4 linked regions of the Homo sapiens genome follow. The protein of the gene in region 1 purifies or fractionates together with the protein of each later gene. This does not show direct contact. Each region holds a gene or a part of one and is shown on either strand. Other genes may lie near its edges. The genes, in order: MAN2A1, DNASE1L1, IL13RA2 and TMED5.

The links.
Region 2: the proteins of MAN2A1 (region 1) and DNASE1L1 purify together in Homo sapiens (co-immunoprecipitation; one large-scale study listed by IntAct). This does not show direct contact.
Region 3: the proteins of MAN2A1 (region 1) and IL13RA2 purify together in Homo sapiens (co-immunoprecipitation; one large-scale study listed by IntAct). This does not show direct contact.
Region 4: the proteins of MAN2A1 (region 1) and TMED5 purify together in Homo sapiens (co-immunoprecipitation; one large-scale study listed by IntAct). This does not show direct contact.

Annotation. Positions count from the first base shown.
Region 1 is NC_000005.10:109,820,049-109,828,565, reverse strand, and holds part of MAN2A1 (alpha-mannosidase 2), read right to left. Parts: intron 8,347-8,517; coding exon 8,224-8,346; intron 4,844-8,223; coding exon 4,729-4,843; intron 1-4,728. UniProt on the Homo sapiens protein: Catalyzes the first committed step in the biosynthesis of complex N-glycans. It controls conversion of high mannose to complex N-glycans; the final hydrolytic step in the N-glycan maturation pathway.
Region 2 is NC_000023.11:154,400,736-154,403,495, reverse strand, and holds the end of DNASE1L1 (deoxyribonuclease-1-like 1 precursor), read left to right. Parts: intron 1-114; coding exon 115-227; intron 228-305; coding exon 306-554; intron 555-654; coding exon 655-789; 3' UTR 790-2,260; downstream 2,261-2,760. Other genes in the region: RPL10 (large ribosomal subunit protein uL16), read right to left, coding at 2,473-2,760.
Region 3 is NC_000023.11:115,004,650-115,013,166, forward strand, and holds part of IL13RA2 (interleukin-13 receptor subunit alpha-2 precursor), read right to left. Parts: intron 6,180-8,517; coding exon 5,995-6,179; intron 5,018-5,994; coding exon 4,872-5,017; intron 3,428-4,871; coding exon 3,283-3,427; intron 667-3,282; coding exon 548-666; intron 1-547. UniProt on the Homo sapiens protein: Cell surface receptor that plays a role in the regulation of IL-13-mediated responses. Functions as a decoy receptor that inhibits IL-13- and IL-4-mediated signal transduction via the JAK-STAT pathway and thereby modulates immune responses and inflammation.
Region 4 is NC_000001.11:93,146,830-93,155,346, forward strand, and holds the end of TMED5 (transmembrane emp24 domain-containing protein 5 isoform 1 precursor), read right to left. Parts: intron 8,060-8,517; coding exon 7,841-8,059; 3' UTR 2,913-7,840; downstream 1-2,912. UniProt on the Homo sapiens protein: Potential role in vesicular protein trafficking, mainly in the early secretory pathway. Required for the maintenance of the Golgi apparatus; involved in protein exchange between Golgi stacks during assembly.

The sequences.
Region 1 (8,517 bases):
AAAGTAGCTGTTGATATCAGAAACTAGGACACTAAAGTCCAATAATTACAGCTCTGAAGACAAATAAGGCCACAGTTAACAATGTCACTTATTGGTATTATATTATTGCAAGGTATGTACTTTCCTTGTAGGTGCAGTATTAAATAAAACACAAGAGGATACAGGAGCTTCTGTTTGTATTATATTCTATCTTCTAATTACAGATTAACCAAAAAAGCTAAAGTAGCAGCCTATATGGTAATGTTTAAAGCTTCAATTAAATGAAAGATGATTATACTGCAAGAAAAATTAATTCCCACCTCCCTCAACTTTTCCCCCAGAAGAGTGTTATTTTCTACAAATGAAATAAATTGCATTTCATTAAATTATGGGTGCTATAAAATGGATTTATTAAACCTGACATGGGCAAAACAATATATTTCATTAGAAATTTTTTTTCTTTTTTTCTTTTTTTTTTTTTTGAGACAGAGTCTCGCTCTGTTGCCCAGGTTGGAGTACAGTGGCGCTATTTCGGCTCATTGCAACCTCCGCCTCCTGCGTTGAAGCGATTCTCCTGCCTCAGTCTCCCGAATAGCTGGGATTACAGGCACGTGCCACCAAACCCAGCTAACTTTTTGTATTTTTAGTAGAGACGGGGTTTCTTTCACCTTGTTAGCCAGGATGGTCTTGATCTCCTGACCTTGTGATCCGCCTGCCTTGGCCTCCCAAAGTGCTGGAATTACAGGTGTGAGCCACCGTGCCACGCCTTCATTAGAAATTCTGAACTGCTCTGATCTTGTAGAGCTTTTAAGGCTAGTGAGCACAAGATTTCTTCTAATTTAGTATTTTTAGAAACCTTTTGAATGCGATGTCTGAACGATAATGAAAAGGAAAACAGAGTGTTCTTTTATTAGTTTAAAAGATGTTAAGAAAGAGAGAGCCCTTCAACTGCACTTCTGATCATTTTCAGAATCTGGAGAGAATGCAGATAGAGAAACAAAAGTTAAATACCAAACCAAAAACAAAAGTAGGTTGAACTATACGGCCTCTCAACTCTGTTTCAAAATCATTAAGGACCAAAAAGTTTATATAATTTTGGAAATGTTGCTTGTCGTTCTTGATTTTGTTTTCTCCTGAAGCTTAATTTGGGCAATAGTTACTTTGGGGAGAAAAGGGTCAAAGAACAACTAAAGTAGAGACTGAGAAATGTAAGAATATTTTGTCAGGTATGCGTTAGTTTAGTTTTTAAATTGGATTTGTAAGGTTTAACAAAAATAGACACCCAACAAAGACAATCTTTAATACTAACTCATTTTCTGTTTCTTTATTCCTTGTTGCTGAGATTACAAAATCTTTTGTATAATTAACTGGTTTAGTAACCTAATACAATTACAGTATGTAATCATAAAACATTAATAGTCTCTCTCCCCAAACCCTCATTTCTTCCTGGATTGAAAATCTGGTACTAACAACAAATAGGCTCTATTCATTAATACTCATGCAAATAACTGCATCTGGTTGGTTTAAGGGGGACAAAAGTAGCATATATCCAAAACTAGTTTAGTAAATTAAATTCAAGAATAAATATTTTTTGTTATTTTATGCAATACTAGCTAAAAGCCAATCTACAACAGCATGGAAGTTGGCTGACGTTTCCTTTGCATCTAAAATGAAAAGCCACATTTTGTCTATGCATTTTGATCAATCATCCAGGTGTCTGATTTACAGGAGGCCAAAGTTTAGAATGTTAAACAACTTTCCAGTATTTCTTAATAAGGAAGACTTGGCACTAAATAACAGATCCCTGAAGACTGATCACCCTTTCAGGCAGCGTGAACGCTGATAGAGCCAAATACCCTGAAGACTTCGTATATCTATCATGGGCCTTGATTAGTGATTTCATTAAAACCACAATCAGCCAGGATTGAGACAACCCGAGTGTTCAGGCAATGGTATGTGAAAAACAGGAGAGACAGGTGAGTCATGAAGATTACTAAGGAAAGACTCTCTCCACAACCGGGCTTATCTTTTCCCAGAGGGAGATTTGTTAAGAGGAGCTCAAATACAAACACGGGAAGGTATATAGTTTGGAAGAAAGCATTTCAGGTGATTCTGGTATCTCTATTTCCTACCAACTGCTTTCATGTTGAAAAAAAAAATGATCCGGACTAGAATGAAAAAAGATTTACAGGTTACGTCCAGTTTATATATGACGGCTTCTCATTTAATCCAGGCAACTACTGTAAAACTCATCAGTGAGGCGCTCTAAGTTTGCATTACACTTATTTATCCATCATTTATTATTTTTTTCATATGCCCGAGAACACCAAGGAAGAGAAGACAAATAATCTAGAAAGGAAACACATGAAAAAAGAAAATCAAGCCAGGTGCAGTGGCTCATGCCTATAATACCAGCACTTTGGGAAGACAAGGCGGGTGGATTACCTGAGGTCAAGAGTTCGAGACCAGCCTGACCAACATGGCGAAACCCCATCCCTACTAAAAATAGAAAAATTAGCCAGGCGTGGTGGTGTACACCTGTAGTCCCAGCTACCTAGGAAGCTGAGGCAGGAGAATCCTTGAACCAGTGGGGCAGAGGCTGCAGTGAGCCGAGATCGCTCCACTGCACTCCAGCCTGGGCGATAGAGCGAGACTCTGTCAAAAAAAAAAAAAAAAAAAAAAAAAAGGAAGGAAAGAAAGAAAGAAAACTAAAGAATAAAAAAGAGAAAAGAGGCAGAGGCAAGACCAGCAAATAGAAATGGGCTACATTGAGAGCCCCTTTGGAAGGCCAGGAGCCAGTCAAACCTCAGTGGCCCGGGCTCCTGCTTAACACTATTAGCCACTGGACAGTTCACTGCCCAGAGGGAAACAGGAAGAGAGGGGGAAAGGAAAAATGACAAGCATTTAGTTCTGATGAGTGTAGTTTGCTCAAATAAGTAAATAGGCAAGTCAGAGCCTATTAATTTCCAAGTCAAGCACTAAGCTACAGCCACTAGCAGCAGAACAGGGCCATCTAGTCTACACAAACTGCCCTATGATGTGAGAACTAGAGGTCCTGGATAATCCAAGGAAAACCCAGAAGATACAGTGACATAATTAAATAAAAGCAAAAGCAATTATGCAAATATACCTGATTGAGAAGTTGGAATTTTAGGAAGAGTTGCTACAGCATTTCCTCTGAGACATAGCCCATCTCTAAATATAACTGATGAAAAACAATGGTAAATCAAACCTGATGACACAAGTTTGTGCCAAAGTGTGTGCCATGTTGTACTCCAGGAAAAACTTTTCCACTAAAAAACAATAGTTTAAAGCAAACTTAAAAATAGATCAGCATATCTTCTGTGGGGTAATGCTATAAAGTTGAAGATGTAACTTAGAGCTCTCAGGGGTATTAAATAATGGCTTACACAAGAGTACAAACAGATGATCAAAAACAGTTTCTGACTTACCAGAAGTTTTGAGAAACTCAATAGAAGATTATTTCAGAACTACAGGTTTTCCTGTAGGTAGCAAAGTGATCACAGATAACTTCAGAAGTCACATTTAGGACACAAAATTAGTGTCTAGCATTATTTTTCCCACCTGCCAGAGAACTTTTACTTCTTGATTCATCCTATGAATCATGGGTTATTCTGAAAAACCTATCATATTATTACCTAAAGAAGTTGCATGAGAAAGTTTGTCCATACCTGAAATTCTAACAAAAAGCAAATACTAATGAAATTTGAAGTTAATAAAAAAGTTAAATAAAAGCAAAATTAAATTTAACTATGAAATCAGAAAATTGAACTTCTGTGATTTAAGAGATTCCCTGAACATAGTATCCCTTTGCTTTCCCACAATACCTAAAAAGGAAACCGTGCCTACCTATACATTTATCTTTAGTTTGTGAAATCCTTTATTTTTTACCTGTATGAAGATTCAGGGAAATAGTATTTTTTCTTTTCTAATTTGTTCAACTTAGCTAACAGCAAAGATAAATTTAAATGGCATTTTTATGAGGTCTTTTTCTAAGAGTGTTGATAATATGGTAAATACCCTGGTTATTAGGATTAAATCTGTAGTTGGAAAAGCACACCATTCTACAAACAATGAATTCTAAATCAACCAACCTAAATGTGCAAGTCTTTGGAAACCACAGCTCCACTCAGACCCCATGGAATCAGTTCCATTGCCCAGGGTTAAGTTCTCAAAAGGATCAAAAGCCTATTTCCTATCACTTGGGTTCATAAAGATGCTGCTCAATACTGTTCTAAAAATGATAAACAATTGCTAGGTTTTATACTCTACTGGGTAAAGAGCTGTAAACAAATAGAACCAGCTTAGAACATTTTTCTCTTAAAGTTACATTCCAGTGATACAGGCTATATTTAAGGAAGCAGGCCCCATATATGTGTGTGGTCTATTAACTGAAAGTCGTATTTAATATAATTTCCATTTCATAAAATCAAAACACTGTATTGTTTTCAGGTGTTAAAAATAAAGTTACCAGTTAATGAGCTCAAGACCAATATGGCAACAATTAAGAGAAGATATACAGAGGAACATGTATATGTAGGGATTGAAACGTTTTACCATTTTTTATTATCAAAGGGTAAGTTTCATATTTTAAATCATATTAAAAATGTCAAGTTTAGAAAAACATCATCTACAAAAACCAACTGTTAATTTAAGAATGGCATAAGAAAAGCAAGAATTCAAAAACCATAATACATATGTTTCATAACTGCATTCCTATTTTCTTACCCTGTATGTGGTATAGTCGGACTCTATGAGTAACATGGTCAAAAAAGCAAGTCACTTCCGAATAAATCCTTCCATGTGTCACTCTGACAAAGGGCGGTGTTGTGTAAACATAAGGCTGAAAAGAAAATAATATATTTAAGAAAAATATTTTGGCTTCCAAACTTTTAAAAGAATATGTTTATTATGGTTTCAAAAATAGAAAATACGTATCACCTGATATTTGCAATTTTAAGTGTAAACCAGATCTTACAAGGTAACAAAATATGCATGTGATAAAAACTGAACGTGTTTTTTATTTTTAAAAATGCTGAAAATAGGAAATAAAAATGTTTACAACTTCACTGGTCTAGAAAGCATTCCTCCCAGCTATACAAATTTCTAACTAAAATCCTTCTATTTGTCCATATAGTTACTTATTAGAAACAGCAATCATTCTACAGAAGTTACATTTTCCCAGGTAAATAATTATTATAACCATGGTCCCAGCCCCCTAATGTTCAGGGTTTGGGACAGGTGGCAAGGATGACTACAGGGAGTCATCTAAGCAAACTGAAAGCAGGATTCAGAAACATAGTTTAATCATAGCTCGGTTTACTAAACTATAAAACATTCTGTCCTTTTACTTGAAAGAACTAGCTGAATATAAATTCACAAACTTGAAAAAACTACTTGGAAACCACTAGTTTAGTTTTTATTTAAATTTTAAAAAATGGTAATAAAGCACATAACTTATGTGACATGGAAGCAAATTTAAAACATTTATGAGTAATTATATTTTTAAAGTATTAGATACCTTAGCTCAACAATAGCATAGAAAGTTAGGCTTGCAATATGAACTACTTAAACAGTGTAAGATTTTCGGCCAGGCGCCGTGGCTCACGCCTTGTAACCCTAGCACTTTGGGAGGCCGAGGTGGGCGGATCACAAGGTCAGGAGATCGAGACCATCCTGGCTAACATGGTGAAACCCCGTCTCTACTAAAAAGACAAAAAATTAGCCAGACTTGGTGGCGGGTGCCTGTAGTCCCAGCTACTCGGGAGGCTGAGGCAGGAAAATGGCGTGAACCCAGGAGGCGGAGCTTGCAGTGAGCTGAGATCGCGCCACTGCATTCCAGCCTGGGTGAAAGTGCAAGACTCCGTCTCCAAAAAAAAAAAATTTTTTTTTCAGAATTGTGTAATTTTCTTCCAAATTTACCTCTTTGGCTAGGGAAAATTTTCTGGAGTTATTAAAATGCTTAATGGTTTACAAATTTCTTGTACCTAATTACCAAATAGCTAGAAAGTGAGGGAGGGGATGAGAACCTGGGATGATGAGTTCTGGGCTCTTGCCTTTTTCTGATGCACTAGACTGCCTCTTTCCCTGATGTTTTTTATTTTCTCTCTGTAAAAATGACAATTGTTTTATCTTTCTATCTGACATTAGAGCTATTTAAAGATAAAATGGTTTTAAATAAATTAGTTATTGGTATCTACGCATGAAATTCTATAGCACAACTACTTTTTTAAGTATAAATACAGTCAATCAAAATAAAATGTCCAATGACAAAAGCTGGTGAATGAGAAAACACTGAAACAGCTCATATTTGGGACTCACTGCCCATCCTGGAATGCCTCATATGAGTTGTAGTTTGTCTTTAATTCTTCACTGACTTAAAAAAAAAAAAAAAGAAAAACCCCAAACAGCCAAAAAAAAAACCAAAAACAAAAACAAACAAAAAACCTAGAGTCCTTACTGTAGCCTACACAATCCCTTAAAATCCAGTATTGGATTTTAGTTAGCAGGTTTCATAACTTGTGGAACAAAAGTAACTTTTTCAGGAGATAGGTCCCTAGCTAACAAGACAATAATTAGGATAACATTTCACTGATCTTGAGGTATAGAAAACCTATAAAGGTATAAAAGCAAAGGAAGAAACTCTACAGAAAAAAAAGAAATGACTACACAAAAATTTAAAACCACTATAAATGAGAAATACAATAAAATAATTAACAAACTAAATGACACAATAAGAAAAATTTTACAACATATAGGGAAAAGGATTAATTTTACCACATATAGAGTGCTCAGAGATCATCAGGACACACCAACAGAAAAACAGTCAAAGAATAGAAATAGGAAAATCACAAAAGAAATATGAAAGATAAATGAAGGTACAAAAACGTTCAACCTTACTAGTAACCACAAAAATCTTAACAGAAAAATATTTTTCTACTAACTTACTATTATAGGCAAAGCTTGTAATATGGCCAATTCTCAGTGCTTGGAGTGGGATTTTAGAGTTAATCTCAAAAAATGCTGGTGGGATTGAACATTTACCTAGTCTTTCTAGAGGGAAGATAAGCAGTACACAGCAAAAGTCCTTAAAAGACTTCAGACACTGATACAAAATGACTCTTCTAGAAAGTTATTCTCAGCAATTAATCAGAATTGCATTGTAGCATTCTTTTTGAATGCTACAAAGAAAGCTTATTACAATGTTATGGTAGTGAAGAATCGGGAGAAAAAGAATATAAGCAACATCTTAAACACAACAGTATATATTAAAATTGGATTTTTAAAAAACATACCATCAGATTGTGAGCACTGTCACAAATGAAAAACAAAATATGTACATGCAATAAGTCAAGACTTGAGAACGGGGAGAAAAGGATATGCATAAAATAAAAGACAATAAGAAATACATCCAAATGTTGGCAATGGTTTTCATGGGATTGTGCACCTGTTGGTAAATTTTAATGTTTTCTTTAGTTTCTGGCATTTTCAAAATGTGCCAGAGTTTGCGTATTACTACCTTTATAGTCAAGAGTGAGAAAGATTTGTTTTTTAAAGGGCTGAAAGTTAAGGAGAAAAATGGTCCAGTGGAAAATCTATTTTTCCCATACGGCTAGAGGTTTTGTGTCTGTATAAAATGCATACATATAAAGCTCCCTAACTCTACGTAAAATCTAGTTTCTTCCCATGTTCATTGTTTATCCTAACTGAACATTGTTCATTGTAGCATCTTAACAAATTCCAACTCTAAAAAACTATTTATCTAACGGGGTCTTGCTCCGTCAACCCAGGCTGGAGTGCAGTGGCGTGATCTTGGCTCACTGCAACTGCCTTCCGGGCTCAAGCCATCCTCCCACCTCAGCCTTCCTGAGTAACTGGGACTGTAGGTGCAGGCCACCATGCCTAATTTTTGTATTTTTTGTAGAAAAGGGGTTTTGCCATGTTGCCCAGGCTGGTCTTGAACTCCTGAGCTCAAGCAATCTACCCTCCTTGGCCTCCCAAAATGCTGGGATTACAGGTGTGAGCCACTGCGCCCAACCATTTATCTAACTTTCGACTACAAATTGCTAAGTATCAATAAGGTGATAGATAATACTGCAACCAAAAGTTCATCTATCCCTAATAAATCAACAGATGATAAAATAATGACACTCACTTATCTTTTTCCTCAATACTCTTTCAATAAGTGTTTATTCCATTTGTCATCTCATCAGTACCACTTACCTTGGCATTACCATCAGGTAAGAAGAGGTAGGCACCACTTTTGTCTCTTTTAATTGTGGTTCCATACCATGAAAATTGCACATTTACTTCATGGTGTTTACCATCTTCTTTAGTCATCATTTGCTAAAGATTAAAAAAAATAATAATAAGCAACTCACCACTAAGATGTTAAGCATGTTGCATCTGGTTCTATGTATATGACAATTTAAAAAAATAATTTCTGTACTTATCTGGTGGACCAGTGACACACAGACCACGGAGTAGCGCCACCCACAGACTATACATGTGAGCAGC
Region 2 (2,760 bases), on another chromosome or scaffold:
TGTGGGAGCAGAAGGGGAGTTCTGGCTGGCTCCACTGGGGGCTTCCTCACCCAGACGGGCTAGGGGGAGAAGGTCCAGGAGTGGATGGCAGCCCTCGGTCCCTGGGCCTTGCAGTCCTTCCCAGCCTGGTGTTGGTCCCGCTGCACACCACTCCTAAGGCCGTAGAGAAGGAGCTGAACGCCCTCTACGATGTGTTTCTGGAGGTCTCCCAGCACTGGCAGAGCAAGGTAGGCCTGGGCAGTTTGTACAGGAGGGACAAGGATAGGGTGGCCCAGCGGCCAGCCTGATGGCTGCTGTGTCTCTAGGACGTGATCCTGCTTGGGGACTTCAATGCTGACTGCGCTTCACTGACCAAAAAGCGCCTGGACAAGCTGGAGCTGCGGACTGAGCCAGGCTTCCACTGGGTGATTGCCGATGGGGAGGACACCACAGTGCGGGCCAGCACCCACTGCACCTATGACCGCGTCGTGCTGCACGGGGAGCGCTGCCGGAGTCTGCTGCACACTGCGGCTGCCTTTGACTTCCCCACGAGCTTCCAGCTCACCGAGGAGGAGGTGAAGGGATGGGGCTGGCATGAGGAGGGAGGGCAGCAGCAGGGTCACAGGGAAGCCCCTCGGCCCCGGGCACTGACACTGCCCCACCACCCATTCCCAGGCCCTCAACATCAGTGACCACTACCCCGTGGAGGTGGAGCTGAAGCTGAGCCAGGCGCACAGCGTCCAGCCTCTCAGCCTCACTGTTCTGTTGCTGCTATCACTCCTGTCCCCTCAGCTGTGCCCTGCTGCCTGAGCGTCCCCCTACCCCCCCAGGGCCTGCTGCCTTTTGGGACTTAAACCCCAGCCTCCCCCGTCCATCCAGCCCTGGGGCTGGGGGGCTTCAACTATAGTTGCCCTGTGACTGTAGTCCACCCCTGCCTGCCTTGTTTGATTTGGCTCTTGTTCTTTGGTTGGGCTTGTGCCTAGATTAGGAGAGGAAGCCAGGGGCCCTGCACTCATGCCACCTGCCAGGTAGTGTAGTATCAGGAGTGGAGACAAAGTGGGCTCTGGGTTGGGGTAGGGGAAGGGAGGGTTCAGAAAGAGGAATGAAGATGTTGTATGACAAGAAGGAAAGTTACTGAGAACAAAAACCCAGATTGGTGAGATAGGACACTTGTGCAGCAGATATGCCAATGGGCCATGTTTATTGTGGATTGGTAAGAATCACCAGGAAACCATTAAGCCCCAATAGCTACAAGGAGGGTGGTTAATCTGCTATATCAAACTCCTTCCCTGAAACCAGCAAACACCGGGAAACATTTTGGCTCATTATAATCCGGTGAACAATGCAGTCAGGCCTGTTATAACCGCTGAGCAGCCACACTCGCACCTCCTGGGTGCTGTAGTCTGTGTTGGTACAGGCTTCTGCATGCCTGGTAAAGTCCAGCCAAGGCTGGTCAAGGCAACATCTCCACACAGAAAATCTGCACCAGTTATGTAAGCTAAAAAGCTGTGTGAACCCAGGTGTCCCGGAAAGGGGCTGCAGGACACAGCAAAATGCCAGCAGCATGCCGGACCCCTCCCTTCCATCCTCCTCTCCAAAGAAGAGAGGTCAGGAAAAACACTGGCTGGGACGCTAGAAGGGTCATGTGTTAACTATAATCACATTTATGGTTTGGAACCATCACCCCAAGGTAAAAAAAAAATAAAAGGTATTCCCAGGTATGTTTGGCAAAATAAAATAAAGGTAATTAAAAACCTAAGAAATGGCTGTAAACTGAGATTACAAAAAACCAGAGGCCTTTTGGGAGCCACAGGCTGGGGGCTGGGGCCAACATACCCCAGCTCTGGGACCAAAAGCCTTTGGAGTCCTGTCCCTGGATACAGATGCTCAGGCCACCCACCTAGCACTCCTCTCATTTTTGCTGCTCCCCCAAAAGCCAGCGCTGTTCTACAATAGTTCAGGTCAGACATCTAAGATCCCCAGGCCAAACCATGCCACACACGTGTCTGTTCCGAGGTCTTGTTACAAATGACCAAAGGTTAGCCTAGACCTTTGGTCAGGTGGTGAAGGCCCTGGGAATGCAGGTTCTAGAAGGGGTGGGGGCATGGGGCCCAGGAGGTTGCTAGAGATAGGAAATGGGGCAAATCGCAGGTGACCTCAGCAGTACCTGGATGATTCCCACCAAGGAGGAATGGCCAAACCAGATGGGTGAGAACAAGCCCAATGTGATGCACACCTACCCTTGCTAAATAAACGCTGCTGGTCAGCCTCTAGCCCACAAGCCCCTCTTGGTCCGCATGTGTTGTAATAAGCAACACAACTGTAGGCTGACCCCAGCCTGGGATTGCAAGGCTTTGCTGCAGCTGTGCTTCATGAAAAGCACTTCAGTGTTTTTCAACCTACTGCCTAGGACCTGGGGAGGTCCAAGTCAAGCTCCAGAGTAGACAACTGACATAAGGCCACCAGTCCCAGCCCTTTGCAGGGTTTGCTGCCTCATGAGCAGGGCTGAGTTGTCAACCTGTTTCTGAAGTGAAAGGGCAATGACCCAAAGGTTCCCAGAGGAAGTTCCTTCCCCGTCAAGAATGTAGATACAAAGACATAGGTGGACAGGAAGTAGAATTTATTGGTGAGTATTAAGAGGGGGGCAGCACATTGGAAGCCCTCATGAGTGCAGGGCCCGCCACTTGTCCAGAGGGCCACGACTGGGGATGTACTTGACCCCACAGCCATCTGGGATGAGCCGCTTTTCAGCCACCATGTCTTCAAATTCATCAGCATTGA
Region 3 (8,517 bases), on another chromosome or scaffold:
CCCAACCCAGAGTGGTCCTATTGTTTTCTGAAATTCTATAGCATTATCTGCACGACTCAAATGGCAATCATCTAAAATCATCTCAAAGGTTATATTTTTTTGTATGGATCCTGTCTCCCTTAACTTGAGTGTGTGCTCCAAAGGCAGGCACCATGCTTTATCATTTGCATGTGTTCTTGTGCCTGTGGCACACTGGTAATATGTGTTTCAGTCTATGATCATTTTAATTCACTCTTCTATTTCTCCCAATCCTGCTTTTCTCTTGTAACTCTTTCCGTATACCATTCTCTAATCTAGGGCCAAATAGTATTTCATGTTTAAAGTTTGATTTCGACAAAAGTAAATCCACCTCAAAATGAAGTCTTGTAAGCTTAATTTTTAAAAATTGCTGTATTTTCTGAAGATAACATCATAATCCATACGGAATCAATTGTACACCCACAGCGAACAAGCAAAATTATAAAATGTATCTCCATCAGTTCTAAGTGCAGAACATTTTAAAAATCTCCTATTCTCAGGCTAAACATCATAATGTTACACATCTTACCATTTTTGGGTAGGTGTTTGGCTTACGCAAAAGCAGACCGGTTACAAATATAACTAATATTAAGATGAAACCAAATGGTAGCCAGAAACGTAGCAAAGTTTTCTTCGATAGGTCTTCACCTAGGATTAAAAATCACACGGAAAGGGGAAGTGTTAGACATTTGCCACTATTTTTGAAACTGAATTATTTTATAAATACTTCAGAACTGAGTTGAGCTTGGAAACCCCTGTCATATTTGCCAGTGCATAAATACCACAATTGTGTTTGAGTATAGCGTTCCTTTCATTTGTGCAATTTTTATATAGAAAAGTACTTTACTGAACTGTGACATGTCTTATTTTCACTTAGAAAAATAACTTCCCCAAACACAATTCTTATTTCCTGATATGAGTTTGTTTATATTTGACCTTGTGAATTCTCCATTTAAAAATGACAAAATATTAGCCAAGTGATTAAACAAACATGTCCTGTGTGTCTGTCTCTTAACTCTCAGTAAGTCAAACGTGTACTTAGATCATAGGATACTGTACCAAGCAAGAGGTATCCTTCAATAAAAATTCCTGTGTGAGTAATGGAAATCATCTTTTAAGGTTACCTTTTTAAAGTTGTCTCATATTTTAAAGACCAAAGGGAGGGATAAGGTTTTTCTTTTCTTTTTGATTTTGCTTTGTTAGTTTAGGGATGGAGTTTTAATGGTTCTTCTGCATAGCAAGAAATGAGCAATCACTAGGCAAACTTAAAAAGCAGACGAAGTTTGGTCTCCCTAAACTAGTACCTCTCACTTGTTTTGGAGTAATATAAAAGATCTTGAATCTTAGCCACGCATCTACAAAGCTCTCTTGATCCCACCTTTTTCTTTGTCCTATTTCCTCACGATCTTGTTTTCTATTAGAAAATTATCAGTCAAATTCACGTGTTCAGAGAAGATTTACAAGAATATAATCCAGAGAAATTACTGATGTAAGTTATCTGTCATGCAAAATTAACAGTGGGAAGGCAGGAAGCTCCTTTGCTGAAGTTCTACTGGCTTTCCCCATACAGAGTCAATCCTGAAGAGGACATACTTTTATTTCCAAAAATATTATTGTCCTATTTTTCTATAACTTGAAACATCCAATAAGAAATGTCCTAAAGAACTGAGACCACATGCAACTCAAGAAATTCCTTGTTTCTAATTTCAAAGTCATTAAGATTCTATGAAGAGGGCTGGGCACAGTGGCTCATGCCTGTAATCTCAACACTTTGTGAGACCGAGGTGGACGGATCACTTGAGGCCAGGAGTTCAAGACCAGCCTAGCCGACACGGTGAAACTCTGTCTCTACTAAAAATACAGAAATTAGCCAGGCGTGGTGGTGCATGCCCGTAATCCCAGCTACTCAGGAGGCTGAGGCACGAGAATCGCTTGAACCCAAGAGGCAGAGGTGACAGAGAGCCAACATCATGCCACTGCACTCCAGCCTGGGTGATAGAGCAAGACTCTGTACCAAAAAAAGGAAAAGATTTCCCTCAAAGCAAGAGAAATCTTAGGCATCACTATCATTGATAAGATTGCATGTAAAATACAGAAAAGAATATATTTTTTGAGGATATGGCTAAAAACTCACCATAACCACTTTATACAATGCATTGACTAATGACGAGATATAGTTCAGGACATAACTTTAGAGTTTCCTGATTTTTTAAAACAGTAACAAAAATGAAAAACATAAAACTAGTAAGTCTTCTTTCTGATTCCATATAGCTCTTGGTTGAGTTTTCCACTGTCTTGCTATTTTTTCTCCATAATCCTTAGTGATTATATAATCTATTAGGCTTCTCGTTTATTGCCTATCTCTACCCAATTGGAAATAAAATGTAAGTTCACTGAGGGTAGAGATTTCTTTACTGCCATATCTGTAATGCTTGAAAAGAGTCTGATACATAGTAGGTGCTTAATAAATATTTGATGAATGAAAGGGATCAATGATACCACTGTATTCGTAGGGAGATAATAGAGATTCCACTATAGTAGAACAACATGAAAGGAGATGAATGATTGATAGATATGGCAGTATCTGTCTGTATCAGCATCAGTATATTTATTTAGAGCTGCATCTATATCTATGTACCTGAAAGAGCAATGCTGAGTTGATTTCCTTCAATTTTGAACATTTATTAGTAATTTCTACTCTTAAAGCTAATACATTGTGAAGCACAATCACATTTTACCTCATTCTTTAGGCTTTTTAGTTTATATTGCTATGTAATTTAAATGACTTTATCACAAATCACTTTAAATCAGTGTTAGAAGTGAATGGAATGAATATGTATTTTACTATTCATGACCTTTTAATTAGAAAAATATTCCTTTTGAATAGTATTAGACACCCAGAAACAAATGTATGCTGATCTATACTTGCTTTAAGATTTCTGTTCTCTTGAATACTGAAAGCATATGAAAATATTGATTAAAATAAGTTCCTGCCAATCTCTCAAAAGAATGAGCATATTATCTATATTGACAGAAAAACAAGAATTTTGATAATAGAAGTATAACAATATTCCTAGTCCTAACTGAATGAATATTAGACTTTTAATAAATCTTTATTCAATTGAAGTGCTCCCTAACTTATTCTCTCTGTTCATAGACTATATGGGAAAGTCCTTCACTTCTGTAATTACAAAATACACCAAAAGAAAATTAATTTTGCTAGCAAAGAGCTCATTATTTAGTTACTGTCCTTTTAGCTCATACCTTCCCAGCATTGTTTATCACTCCACTCACTCCAAATTCCGTCATCTGAGCAATAAATATTCACTTTGCTTCTTACTACAAAGCATAATTGTCGGGTTTCATTTGTTGTTTTCAAGGTGTATGTTTCATTTTCAACTGTAGCAGTCTGAAAGCCAAGGACAAAATCAGATGCCATTATTTGATCTAGTTGCAACTAGACAGATTCCATATCTGTCCCTTTCAAAGTGGGTTTTATTACATAAAATCTATGCAATCTATGCATCAAAAGACTGGATGCATAATCCCAGCAGTAATTAGCTCTCTGTATAGTGGGGGTTTTAAAATCATTGTTTCTTCCCTTCTTTATCTATATTTTATTTCTACAGTGATAATGGATCACTTACAGTGAAGGACAGCATGTGTGAGACAGCAAAATTCCTAGGTAGCCTTGGTGTTTATAACACCCAGTATGTGGACTAGTGTCAAATTTCCCAGATTCTATGAACTGGAAGATGCTACATACACTCAGTTACCAAAAGACAGAGCCAGCATGTGAATGTTATTACTATGGAAACTATAGAGTTCACATATTAATATATAGCTTTTTCTTTTTTCCTTATGCTTATTTCCTTATTCTGATTGTTAATAAGAATAAGGAAAACCTACATAACAATGCTCAGGGCTTGGAATAAGAATAAGGAAACAAAACCTGTATAACAGTGCTCATGGCTTGGTATGAAACTATTGCTACAGTTATGAGACTATCTCAAGGCTGGGTGATCTCAGAGTAAAAAAATCACTGAAGCAATTATTTCAATTTTGCATTTCAAAGAGCTGAAGAATTTTTCTCATTCAATATAATAGCTTTTCCTTTGGCATAACTTATCTTAGGAATCAACATAATGTAGTGTAGACTTAAGTGGACTGGGAACCAGATCTGATATCTAGTTCTAGCTGCATAATTTGATTGTAAGTGAATTTACATACCTGGGATCTATACATCAATTCAACAACCAGTTTTCTTATCTGTATATGAAAGGAATGAATTAGAACTACTGACTCACTAACTTCTCTCTACCACTCTCTAAACTGGAAACTAATAAGGAAAAATAATATATAACAATGTGTGATTAAAGGCATCACCACATTGTTGGTGCTGGTGGCAGTAATTAGTCTTGCAACCATTGCCTAATTCCCCAGGCAGCCCTTCTTGCCTGGTACAAGCAATTCTCTTGTAAGCCTGCCATACTGTAATTTTGACCTGATGGTTGTTCCTCAATAAGTGGTCTTTGTGGGTTTTTTTTTTTAATTTTGTTTTGCTTTTACTTGAGGCCTCTCCACAATCCATCTTAAGCCTTCACCAACTTTAATTTATTGACACAAAATTGAAAACAAGTGACTAGATAATCTCTAAGGTCCTATGTAACTTTAAAATTGGTATCATTCATTATACTTTTGTCCATTAGCTTATTTGGCTTTCTGGAAATTGAACTAAGATATATGTCATGTTCTGTCCCTCACGTGGATGCAACTGATTTTGGTTCTCACATTTGCTATTTTATTTAAAAGGCTGTAGTTATGATTTTCCCAAATAAATGCAATATTCATACCACCAAGGTAGTATCATCTTCTCTGATCTCAATTTCATAATCAAAACACCTTGCTGGAATAGGTCCCAAAGGTATGCTCCATTTCAGCTTAATTTCACATGAACTCTCCCGAGTAAAAGTAAGATAGACTGGCGGCAAAGGTTTAACTGAAAAGCAAAAGAGAACCATTTCAACACGGAGATTGTTGAAGTTTAGCAGTAGCCTTTATCCAAAGCTAGGGACATCTGGTAACAGAAACCTCCAGGGATAAACCAAGTGGCTCAGTAATATTCCCTATGATACGTATTAAAATCAAAGTTGCTTGCCAACCAAGATGAGTTTATTAACAAACTTGGTTATTTTGGAAACTCATTTTTGACAAGTCACCCACTGACAAATATATAAATCCAAGAGAAAAGTTCGAAGACCCAAATCATTACAACAATTTTCCATTTTGTAGCATTAGAAATAACAACCACAATCAACAATACTACTACTTTTACAAATAGATAACCCTATTTAGTGCTTATGCTATTTCAGACACTGTAAGTACCAAGGATGTTACATAATAATCTCATTCACGCCTCACAATAAACCTATCAGGTGGTCCTCTGTTATCCTCATGTTACTACTAAGGAAATTGAAACAGAGTAACTTGCCCAAAGTCACACGACTAGAAAAATGGTAGATCTAAGATTTAAACCCAGGTCTGGCAGACTCTAGAACCCATCACTCTCATAACCATTAGAACTGAAAATATAGACTCAATAAATATCCAGCCATTTGTCTATTGAGGCCTGGGAAGAAGTATCTTCATAATTAATCCATCACTAACACTAGACAAAAGTACTGTATAGCAGACAAACTGAAGATGGAAAATAAAATTGTGAGTTCTAAATGAAAATGATACTTTAACCTTTATTAAATTTCTTATCTTTCATCCTTAAATATTTAATAAGCGCCACCTCATACACTCTGCTGACTCTCATTTTTCTGTCTTTGCATTTCCATAGGTCTCTGTCTCTCTCTCTGTCTATGTCTCTCTCTCCTTCCTCCCCTTTTTCTCTCTCTCACCCTCTCAAGTGGTTGTAAATGGCCTAAACTAGAAACAATGAATTTGAAGTTGTTTGTTGGTTTACATCACCTATATTTTGAAGCTGAAAAGTGAAATAACTGGATCTGATAGGCTTGTTCTCTGATGATCCATTAACACAAATATAGAAATCTTTATAGTCTGATGCCTCCAAATAGGGAAATCTGCATCCTATATTTTGTCCATCAGCCTTGATGTAATCAACACACTGTAATGCATGATCCAAGCCCTCATACCTGTAAAATGAGTGTTGTGAGAATTGTGTTTAAATAACAATCTTTTCCAGTATCAAGGCACTTCATTTTCAATTATATTAGGATACCATGTCAGTTTAAAAATCATTTAATAATGTACAATATTTATTAAGCACCTACTATATGTCAGGCACTATGATAAGCAATAGGGAAAAAACAGTAGGGAAAGCAGACATAGTCCCCGATTTCATGGAGCTTACAATTTGTTGGGAGTCCTCGCAAAATCTCAAAGACAAGGATTCTTACTTGTGTACTTAGGTTATATTGATTCATCAACAAGGTTTGTGAATCAAAGAATAAGATTCCTAGTAAGAAAACCTGTGATTTGTACAAATAATCCTGCATGATATTGCCTTTTAAGTTATTTTACTGGGGAAGTTATTTTAAAAGAAAGCAAATTTTAAAGCAGACTTAGAAAATATTATGTTTAATAAAATGAATGAAAATCTGGAGTATACAATACACATCAAGAGATAAACCTCAGAAAAGCCAACTGTAGGAGGGCAAAAGGAAAAAGAAGGAGTTGTTTGGCAAGTAAATATTTAATTTTCTCATCTATTAAATGAGAAATGTTACCATATCATTTTAAGTTAACCTTATTCCAGTAATAAAGCTAAAAGGAACTAGGAGTGATTCCCTACTAAATTCGAAAGCAACAAATGCTTGCTATTTTCCTAAAGAATAGCTTGCAATGCAAACCATGACATTATCTGTAAAAGCAGTCAAATCCCTGTTGAAAAGAGGCCAATGTAGCAGCTGATAAGGTGCCTGTACACATATCTGGACTCTACTAAATTAACCTTATGCCAACTATTTACTTTAGGGAGAGTTTGCAAAATTGTTGTCTCTTGGTTAGTTCACTTGATTAGAGTTTGGGAGACTTCAGTTCCAGGCTTAACTCCATACAGACTTACTTGATGTCAGCAGGGAAGGCTTTATTTTCCAATCTCTAAAATGTTAATGTTTATTCCTCCCTATTTCACCAAGATGAGGATCAAATTATATCAAATATGAACCACAATGTACAGGAGGGCAGAGACTTTCTCTTATTCATGCTTTTGTCCTTTTTATCTAGAACACTGCCTGGCATTTAAAAGATGCTTAATATTTGTTGAATTAATGAACAAATAATTTAGATCTTTGAAATTTACCTATCCAATTCCAGATGAGGAAACAAAAATTCTAAAAGAAAAAATTACTTGCCCAAGGCCGCCAAGTTAAATGATGCTAGAGCAGGGATTAGAACCCAGATCTCAGGATTGTTAATAGTTTATAGCTTATGATTTATCTATTATTATTTTCTAAAGAAAGATGCCATGATAATTTGGAACTAGAACTCACCAATAGTAATGCTTAGTCCTCTCTTGATTTTTCCATTATTTAGTAAATGCATATGTTTGGATAATTACCTATCAGTTTATCAGTGCTATCACTTGTTTCAGCTATGTAATAAATATTTAGTGCTAATCTACTACGGGTATAGTACTTTGGAGGTAGGCAAGAGAAATATAATAAACAATTCATGCCCACCAATCCCTTAAAAATTTAACAGGAGACAAAGCACACATATATGAGAAAAAATTTAAATGCCATCTGGACAATAAACAATTACAGGCTATAAAAAAAAATAGTTCAAGGCCAGGCGCAGTGGCTCACGCCTGTAATCTCAGCGCTTTCGGAGGCTGAGGTGGGCAGATCACTTGAGGTAAGGAGCTTGAGACCAGCATGGGCAACATTGTGAAACCCCATCTCTACTAAAAATGCAAAAGTTAGCCAGGTGTGGTGGCACACGCCCATAATCCCAGCTGCTCGGGAGGCTGAGGCATGAGAATCGCTTGAACCCAGGAGGTGGAGGCTGCAGTGAGCCGAGATGGCACCACTGCACTCCAGCCTGTGTGACAGAGGGAGACTCTTGTCTCAAACAAACAAACAAAAAAAAAAACAAAGTAATAGCTCAAGAAAAACAAAACAGAAGCTGACATGATCAGTTAAAGGTTAATGAAACTGGGGAGCAGATGAGCCTTGAAAAAGATGGATAAAAATTGGTGAAAGAAAGATAGAGCCAGAGGGCATTCCAGAAGGTAATGCAAACAAAGGTATAAAAGGCAATAACACGGGTGAGAAAAAAATGTAGAGATGGATCTAAATTGAGTGGAGCATTCACATTGGTAATAGTAGACAGTATGGCAGCCTAGATTTTATCCTGGGGCAATGAGTAGACACAGGAGGTTTTTGAACAAGAGAGTGGTATATGAAAATGGCAATATAGGAAGATAAAGCTGGCTACAGTGTGCAGAATGAATAAAAAGGGGAGAGATTG
Region 4 (8,517 bases), on another chromosome or scaffold:
GACAGATACTGGGAGTTAGGACTTGGATATATCTTTTTCGGGGGGACACAAGTCAACTCACTATAGTATTACAGGATTTTTTCTTTTATGCTTTAGTTTTTCTGAAAGTGGTTGAGATGTAAAATTCTGTGTGGTTGTATTAAGTGTTTATTCAAATTCAGCAATCATGTTTTGAATGCCTATGAGTTGCTGTGAAGAGATAGAGGAAAGATTAGGAGCCTGCCTCTGAGTTCTTAAATTATGGAAGATAGACATAAATAAACTAAATTTGAGTTGAAATTGATAATTACTATGGAGTATCGGTACAAAGTTCCATTGACATTTAGAGTAAGCCTAAGAAAGATACCAAGGGAAAGACTTATTGAAAGGGAATTAATTCTATTTGAATTAGGCTTTGAAGGATGATAGGATCTTAACTGGCAAAAATAGGATAGTGTATTTTATAGCATAAAATCAAGGAGGTGGAATTTGGGGGGGTGGTGGTGAAAGTATTGTTTATAGTATAATAGTACAGTCTTGGAGAGTTAGGACATAAGCGTAATTGTTAAGTAACATTTGAAAACAGTAGATGACTACAGGTATCAAAATATGTGCTGTATTGCTGGAGAAATGAGATTGATCTGGACTGCAATATTTGTTAGGTTTTACCTTGAAGGATGGGTTAGCTTGAATAGAGGCTACATAAGAGAAAATCTAGTTTCAACATGAAGGAGCAGAATAAGGCCTGGAGTCAAGAATGAGCGTGTCACTCAATATTTGAGGGCCTAGCATTTTCAAAGACATTACAGTAGTCACCTCTTGTCTGTGGATTCAAGTGTTAAGTTGCATGCCATTCTGAGTAGCGTAATGAAATCTCACACAAGAGTCATCCCCTTGTCCAGCCTATCCATGCTGTATATGCTACCTACCATTAGACACTTAATAATCTTGGTTATCCTATCAACTATTGCAGTATTGTAGTGCTTGTGTTCAGGTAACCCTTATTTTACTTTATTGTGGCCCCAAGGTATAAGTGTAGAGATGATGGCAATTGGATATGCCAAAGATAAGTCATTAAGTCATAAACTGAAAAGGTGAAAGTACTTGAGAAGAAAATTATATGCAGAGATTGGTAAGATCTAAGGTAAGAACAGATCTTCATGAAATTGTGAAGAAAAAACATTCGTGCTAGTTTTAAGATGAAAAAGGCATTAGCCCATTTATGCCTAGTGTTTTATTATTGGAACGTTAAGCTTGTGAGAGTTATTTATATCCTGCTGCTCAAGGTCATTGCCAAGGTCTGATTTTTCACAGATTTTGCAACCTCCGGTATAAATGGGTTAAATTTGTGGGTGGAAGACACGAACAGAAAGAAATGTGTTCCAGCTGACGTCAGGGTGTTGCCGCGAAAGCACTGAGCCTATACAAACATTCAGCAAGGGATCTCCTGAAATGAGTGATACCAAGCCATTTGCTGCAAATAAGGGATGGTTACACAGATTCAGGAATGGGTTTGGACTGAAGTATTTAAGAATTACTGAAGAGGCTGTGTCTGTTGATGAAGAAGCTGCTGCCTCATTTCCGGCAGAGTTGAAGTTAAGGAGCAAGGATACCATTCAAAGCAAGTCTTCAATTGCAGTGACATCAGGCTCTTCTGGGAGAAGATGCCCAATAGAACTTAGATTCATAAAAGTGCAAATGCGGCGGTATCAGGGCATACAGCATGGAAGAACAGATTAACTCTGGTACTATATGGCATTGCTGCAGGGCATATGATAAAGCGAGGTGTAGTGTATAGAGTGAAGAACCTACATGATCTCGAAAACAAAACAAAATATTATGTGTCTTGGCAACATAATCAGTGTGGGTGACAGCCATTTTTATGGAATGGTTCCACCAGTGCTTCATCCCAGAAGTGCAAAAATACTTGAAAGAGAAAGGGTTAGAATTTAAAGTATTAATAATGGACAATACATGAATCTGTCTGCTATGAAAATGAAAATGTTGAGGTGGTATTTTTACCTCCAGATAAAACCTCACTGCTTCAGTCCCTGAACAGGGCATCATTCGGTTTGTCAGGGCCACATACAACTGCCTGATATTTGAACACATTTGGTCAGCAATTGCTGCAGACCCTAATACGTATATAATGCAGTGCTGGATATCATTCACTATTGCTCATGTGATAACATTCATCAAAGCTGCAGTGGATGAATTAAAACCAGAAACAGGTAAATACCTGCTGGAAGAATGTGGAATTATATATATGATTTAAAGGCTTCCTAGGGACCCATGGCAAGTTTAAATCATGTAGCAAGACAAGACAATCCTTCACAGAACTTGTGAAGGATTTGCTGATGTGCTTGATGAAGAGCATATCAAAGGCCATCACGAAGTGTTAACAAATGAGGAATTGGAAGAAATTTTTGAGTCATCTGCAGAGGGAGAGGAAGATTAAAAAAACTGAAGCAGAATAGCCAACATAGACATTAATTAAACTTGCCGAAGTGTTTTGAATTGCACAGACATTAAACAACAGAATTATAGAATACGATCCTCAGATGAGACACAGCATTAAAGTTACCAATATGATCACCAAAGGATTACAGTCTCTGCAGCAACACTTCGATGAGCTGAAGAGTCAACAACTTCTGGTTACAGTGTTCTTCCAAAATTTTTCAGCAAAAAGACCCCAAAATAGAAATCCTTCACCTATTGAGGATCCCCAACCATCAACATTGTCTGCTCCTTAACCATCAACATTACCTTGGCTCAGTGATCCAGGATTACCCGAAGTTATTTTGATGATAATGTAGCCTAACTACATCACTTATACCTACATCAGTCACCTCATTTCATCTCTTCATGTAGGCATTGTATGACATCTCACAGCCTCACAAGGGTGAGTACAAGATATTTTGAGAGAGAGAAACCACATTTGCATAACTTTTATTACAATATATTGTTGTAATTGTTCCATTTTGTTAGCTATTGTTAATCTCTTAATGTGCCTAATTACAAATTAAACTTGATCGTAATTATGCATGCATAGGAAAAAACAGGCCGGACATGGTGGCTCACGCCTGTAATCTCAGCACTTGGGAAGTTGAGGCGGGCACATCACTTGAGCTTAGGAGTTCGAGACCAGCCTGGGCAACATGGCGAAATTAATTAGTCAGAAATATGTATATACCAACATACTAATATGTTTCAGCTATAAATACTTCTAACATTTCACATGTATATTTATGTAATCACCACAATCAAACTACAGAACTTTTCCACCACAAGGCTCCCTTTATAGCCACATTCTCCTTCCCTTCAGTCCCAAGACCTGGCAACCACGAATCTTGTTTCCCATCTCTATAGCTTTATTATTTAAGAATGTTACAAAAACAGAATCATACAGTGTGTAAAACTTTAGGATTGTCCCCCCAAACCACCCAAGCATAATTCCCTTGAGGTCCATGCAATTTGTTACATGTATCAGTAGTTTGTTCCTTCATATTACTATTTAGTATTCCATGGTGTGGACATACTAAACCATTCACTCTTTTTGAAGGACATCCAGGTTGTTTCCGGGTTTTGGCTATTATAAATGAAGGTGCTATGTAACATTTGTGAATGTTAAGTTTTAACTTCTCAGGGATAACTGTCAAGTAGTACAAATGCCAGTTATATGTTAAATGTATGTTTAGTTTTATAAGAAACTGCCAAGAATATTTTCCACAGTGGCTCTACTATTTCATATCTCACCAGCAACGTATGAGTGGTCCACTTATCCAATTTCTCTTGCATCCTAGCAAAACAACTCTAAAATTTATCATTTGGAACTGTCTTTTCTTTCTGCAATGGTATTACGTGTCCTTTTAGAATTGAAATCAAGGGTAGAAAGGTTAGATTTAGTCCAGCCTCCCATTTCATATTAGCTGTAGTAACAATCCCCTTTACAACATTTGATCATTATTGCCACTTAACACTTCCAGGATTAGGGAGTAGTATCTTTCTTTCTGAGGGAGTTTATATCAGTTTGGGTAACAGATTCTCATTGTTCATTTTACTGCTTTCCTATTTCTTCCTCATCTTCCATAAAAGGCACAATAATAAATCTAAGCTTGTTAAAACAGAAACAAAAACAACACAAGTACTAAAACGAGGGTTTTTGTTTGTAAAACTGTCAATTAGGATTTTAATTCATGGTCAGTGAAGACCTTCAGGATTTTCCCTGCCCTGCATTTTCTTGCCTTTTTCTTTCAGATGCAGGGATCCAGAGTCCATCTCCATTGTGCCCTGTCTTATGTAACATCATCCTAGCTCTAGATTCTTTAATTGGTGTCCTTTCCCCAGACGTACATTAGGTGTATGGCTCCAGGTTATGACAACAGCCTTCCAGAAGCCTTAGACACCTGAAAGTGATAGCAGTGCAGAAGCAGAAAGGTGCCTAAGGATTTCTACCAGCTTGTGGTAGAAGAGTGGCTTGTCTGGATGGTTTGAGGGAAATGACCAAATAATAACCTACCTACACCAAGCATTGTACTTTTCCTATATGCTAACAAGTTTTAAGATGTTTCTGAACAAGTTTTAAAATATTTCTGAAAATGAAATAGTCTCAAAGGAGTTTTGATTTTGCAAGATCACTTAGCAAATGATCCAAGGATAACTGACAGGATTCTATATTGTGTTGGTTGAAAATTAAGAATCCTGAGCCATATTCCAGACCTGAATAATCAATTTCTGGGGTGAGGTGGAGCAGGTAAGTTCCCTGGGTGCTTATTTAGCATACCAAACTTTAAGAACTGATTATCTTTCCTTTCATATATTTTGAGCAAAAACTGTACCTTTTAGGAACAGTGCATGTTTAGGCAACAGGTGAATAAGTACATATAGAAACAGAACTCCAATGCAAAGTAGAGTGATGTACAATAAGAGGTGTAGAGAGCTATGGGGTTTCAAAACAGGAGGAGAGAGCACATTATTAACTAAATAGAGATGAAGGAAGGCTTTCAGGAGTAGACAGCATTTACAAATGACTGGCAGTTAATTTTCTTTGATAATTTTTATTATATACATATCAGTACTCACAATACGTTGCTTATTTAAGATGGCTGTTTATAAGTATAAAGCAGTTTGAGCAACACTGATTGTGCATTATTGTACTTCAGATGAAAAATCCTTACATGTGGAATCAATGTCTTTTAAAATTTCAGATAAAGAATTTTCATTTGAGGAGACATACAATTGTAAGTGCTCATTTTTTGTCAATTTTAAGACACCATTATGTGTAAGAAGGATTAATTTTACCATAAAATTACAAACACCCTCCATGTCTTGACATTCACATGAAAGAACAGCATAACATTAATCATCCAAATGCATATCAGAGCAAACTCTAGGCCTTAGTGTGAGGTGAACACGGTAACTGCTACATTATGGAAATCGGTTGGGCCTTAGTTAAATATTGTAGTATTTTTAAAATTTGTATATTGAAAAAGACAAAATGAGCTGTTAAGTGATAAACAGCTTACTCAATTTAGCATAACTTTAATTTAGAAATGGAATAGTGAAATTAAAAAAAGCATATGAAGCAGATAAACAGTATGTCTTTAGAAATATTAAAGATTTTTACTCTGTTTACAAGTTTTGCTTTTTTGGTTATGCCTCTTAAATATCTGTCTTTTTACTTTGTCTATAAAAATAATTGTCCTTAGTATTCCTAAATTCTTTTCCAAATAAAGCAATTATCGTTTTTATATGGTAAGAAGTTACTGAATCATAGGTTTAAGATCAGTGGCACAAATCATACATGTAGAAGATTATGTAACAAATTCATTGTTAGGTAAGGAGTCAGAGAGTACAGTACAGTAACAGCCATACAGGAGAGGTAGAATTCTTAATCACAGTTTTATAGAAAAGATGCAGTAGTTTATATCTGTACCCTGCTTTATTAGTTATGGTACTGTAAATTTGCTTCTCATTGCAAATTTAACAGCGCAAAAGGGAGGGGTATTCATAGGCAAGGATCTTATTGACCTTTGTTCTGCAAGTGTTGCAGAGGATACCCCTAGACACCTGAAGCATTTTCTTGGCCAATTAAGGTAATTGATCATATACGGCATTTACCTCATTTTTAAAAACCTTGCCAGTAGGGAAATCTAAGCTGCTCTTCTCCCAGGGGCCTAAGAGGGAAATGTATCTCTTTTTATACTACTATGAGTGTAAATGAAATCACTCTCTGGTTATCATTATTGCTCATCAAGAATTCCAGCATTACTAACCTGTTGAGGGGTTCTATACCCCAAATTTTAAGTTTGTTTCTAACTCACAATGTAGTCATAAACAACGTTATAAATGGGCATAACTTAAAAATTATAGTTCATTCATGATGAAGTTAAATTACTAGTACTTGAGTAAGACCCCCATAGACTTCAAAAAGCTAGATGGCAGAAACTTTGTTGTATATATGGGTTATTCACATTTAGGTGTTTAAAACTTGGGAGTCTATGTTTCTAATCCTTACTTCAACATCAATAAATAAAGTGTTCAGAAAGGCCATTTTAATAAAAGTTGTTATAATAAAAATTTTTAATAAATATGTACACCCAGTGCTAAACCTTACAGTAGGGCTTACATTTTATAAAATGTACCTGCTTACAAAAATAATTCAAACCAGAATTCTTGTAGAAAATAAAAACCTACAGCCAAAGTTTCTTCCAGCTAACTGGAAATTAATCATCTCCTTTGATTTATGTTATGAGTAGGATGTCATGATGAGCCAGTCAGATTCTAGATATTTATTTATAGTTCTACTTAAGTGAATTTTATTTTGGATTAGGTTTTCTCAAGTTTTTCTAAATTCTTTCCTGTTTCTGATAATTCTTAGAGCTCAGAAAAGGAGATATTTATTTATGGTAGGCCCAGATCATTTTAGCAATATTTCCTTCATAACTGCTGGTAATAATGAATTATCCAAGTCAGCAATCATGTTAAAATTAACATAACATGATTATTAACTGTTGACAGATATTAACTTGACAGATACTATTAAAAATAAACTTATTTTACCTCACATTTAATTTTAAAATCCTACACTTTAGTTAAGGGTTAGAGAAAATGTGTCCCTATGGAGGAGGAAGCTTTTAAACTATATTCTTCATTTCAAAGAGAAAACATGTCCTAATTTTAGTAAGTGTAACTTTGTGTTTTTAAGAATCGTGAAAATGTCAGCTTTTGGGAATGTAAGCAAAGTACAAAGACTAATGCTTTCTGCTAATATGTTACACTGAAATGTATTTGGTTATAAAAATCTCAAAAACCTAATTGTATTTCAAAGCTATTATTCTATTTACATTATAGGAGAGATGCATATGTAAATAGAGAAAAGTTGGGCTTTTGTAGTCTAAAGATTTATTCAATCCATCATTAGGTAATTCTCAGGTGATTTATAACTTAAAACTGAAAACTTCCACAGTTAATTTGTAACTGCCGCATTTACAAAAAAGTTCTGGGTAATAGAACCTGTTAAAAACAGACTGGTGTTGCAATTAGGCCCAATACTCATTTATTTAAATCACCTAAGACATTTGCAAAATTTTTCAAAGTTAGGAAAATGCAGTTATTAATATGGCTTCATTCAGTTAAACCTATATTCTGCAAAATATTCCTGTTACACACTTAAGTACAACTGGATCAGCAGGATTACTTGCACAGAAAGTGAAGACTTAATTTTCACATTAAAATTATACCTGTTTCCTACTTTTATATCTCAAAATATTTTGGAGAAGACCATTAATGGTCTTGACTGTAACAGTTTATTGCATTTTTATGCCTCATTTTTCAATGTTACGTACTCTAGTTTGGAGTTTTAAGTTCTACTTTTCCTCTTATCTTCAAACAGACTCTTCAGCATATAAACTTGAATGGCTGACACCACCACCATGACCACTAAATTAACCATAGACCAGAAATTGACTCTATCAAAGTTGCTTTCTTGTATGTTTCGATCACGAGCTTCAAATGCTCTAAGCAGAGTTTGTATGTGCCCACTTTTGCTTAGTCTGGACTTGATGCTGTTGATGGATTCCTGGAGATAAATAAAATAATTTTATTATTAAAGAATGCTCAGAAATTTTAACTTAATTAAAAAATGAGGCTGGGTGCAGTGACTCATGCCTTGTAATCCTGGAACTTTGGGAGACTAGGGCAGGAGGACCCCTTGAACCCAGGAGTTCAAGACTGGGCTGGACAACACAGACAGACTCTGCCTCTACAAAAAGATGGGTATGGTAGCACCAAGTGTGGTCCCAGCTACTTGGGAGGCTGAGGTGGGGGGATCACTTGAGTCCAGGAGGTTGAGATTGCAATGAGCCATAATGGTGCCACTGCACTCCAGCCTGGGCAACAGAGTGAGTGAGACCCTGTCTCAAAAAAAGTTTTTTTCAAAATATGCTTTATGTTTTTTATCCAAACACAATTTTAAGTTAGATGGCTGCACAATTCAATTAAAGGGCAGGTACTATTTATATTACATTAGAGATTCTC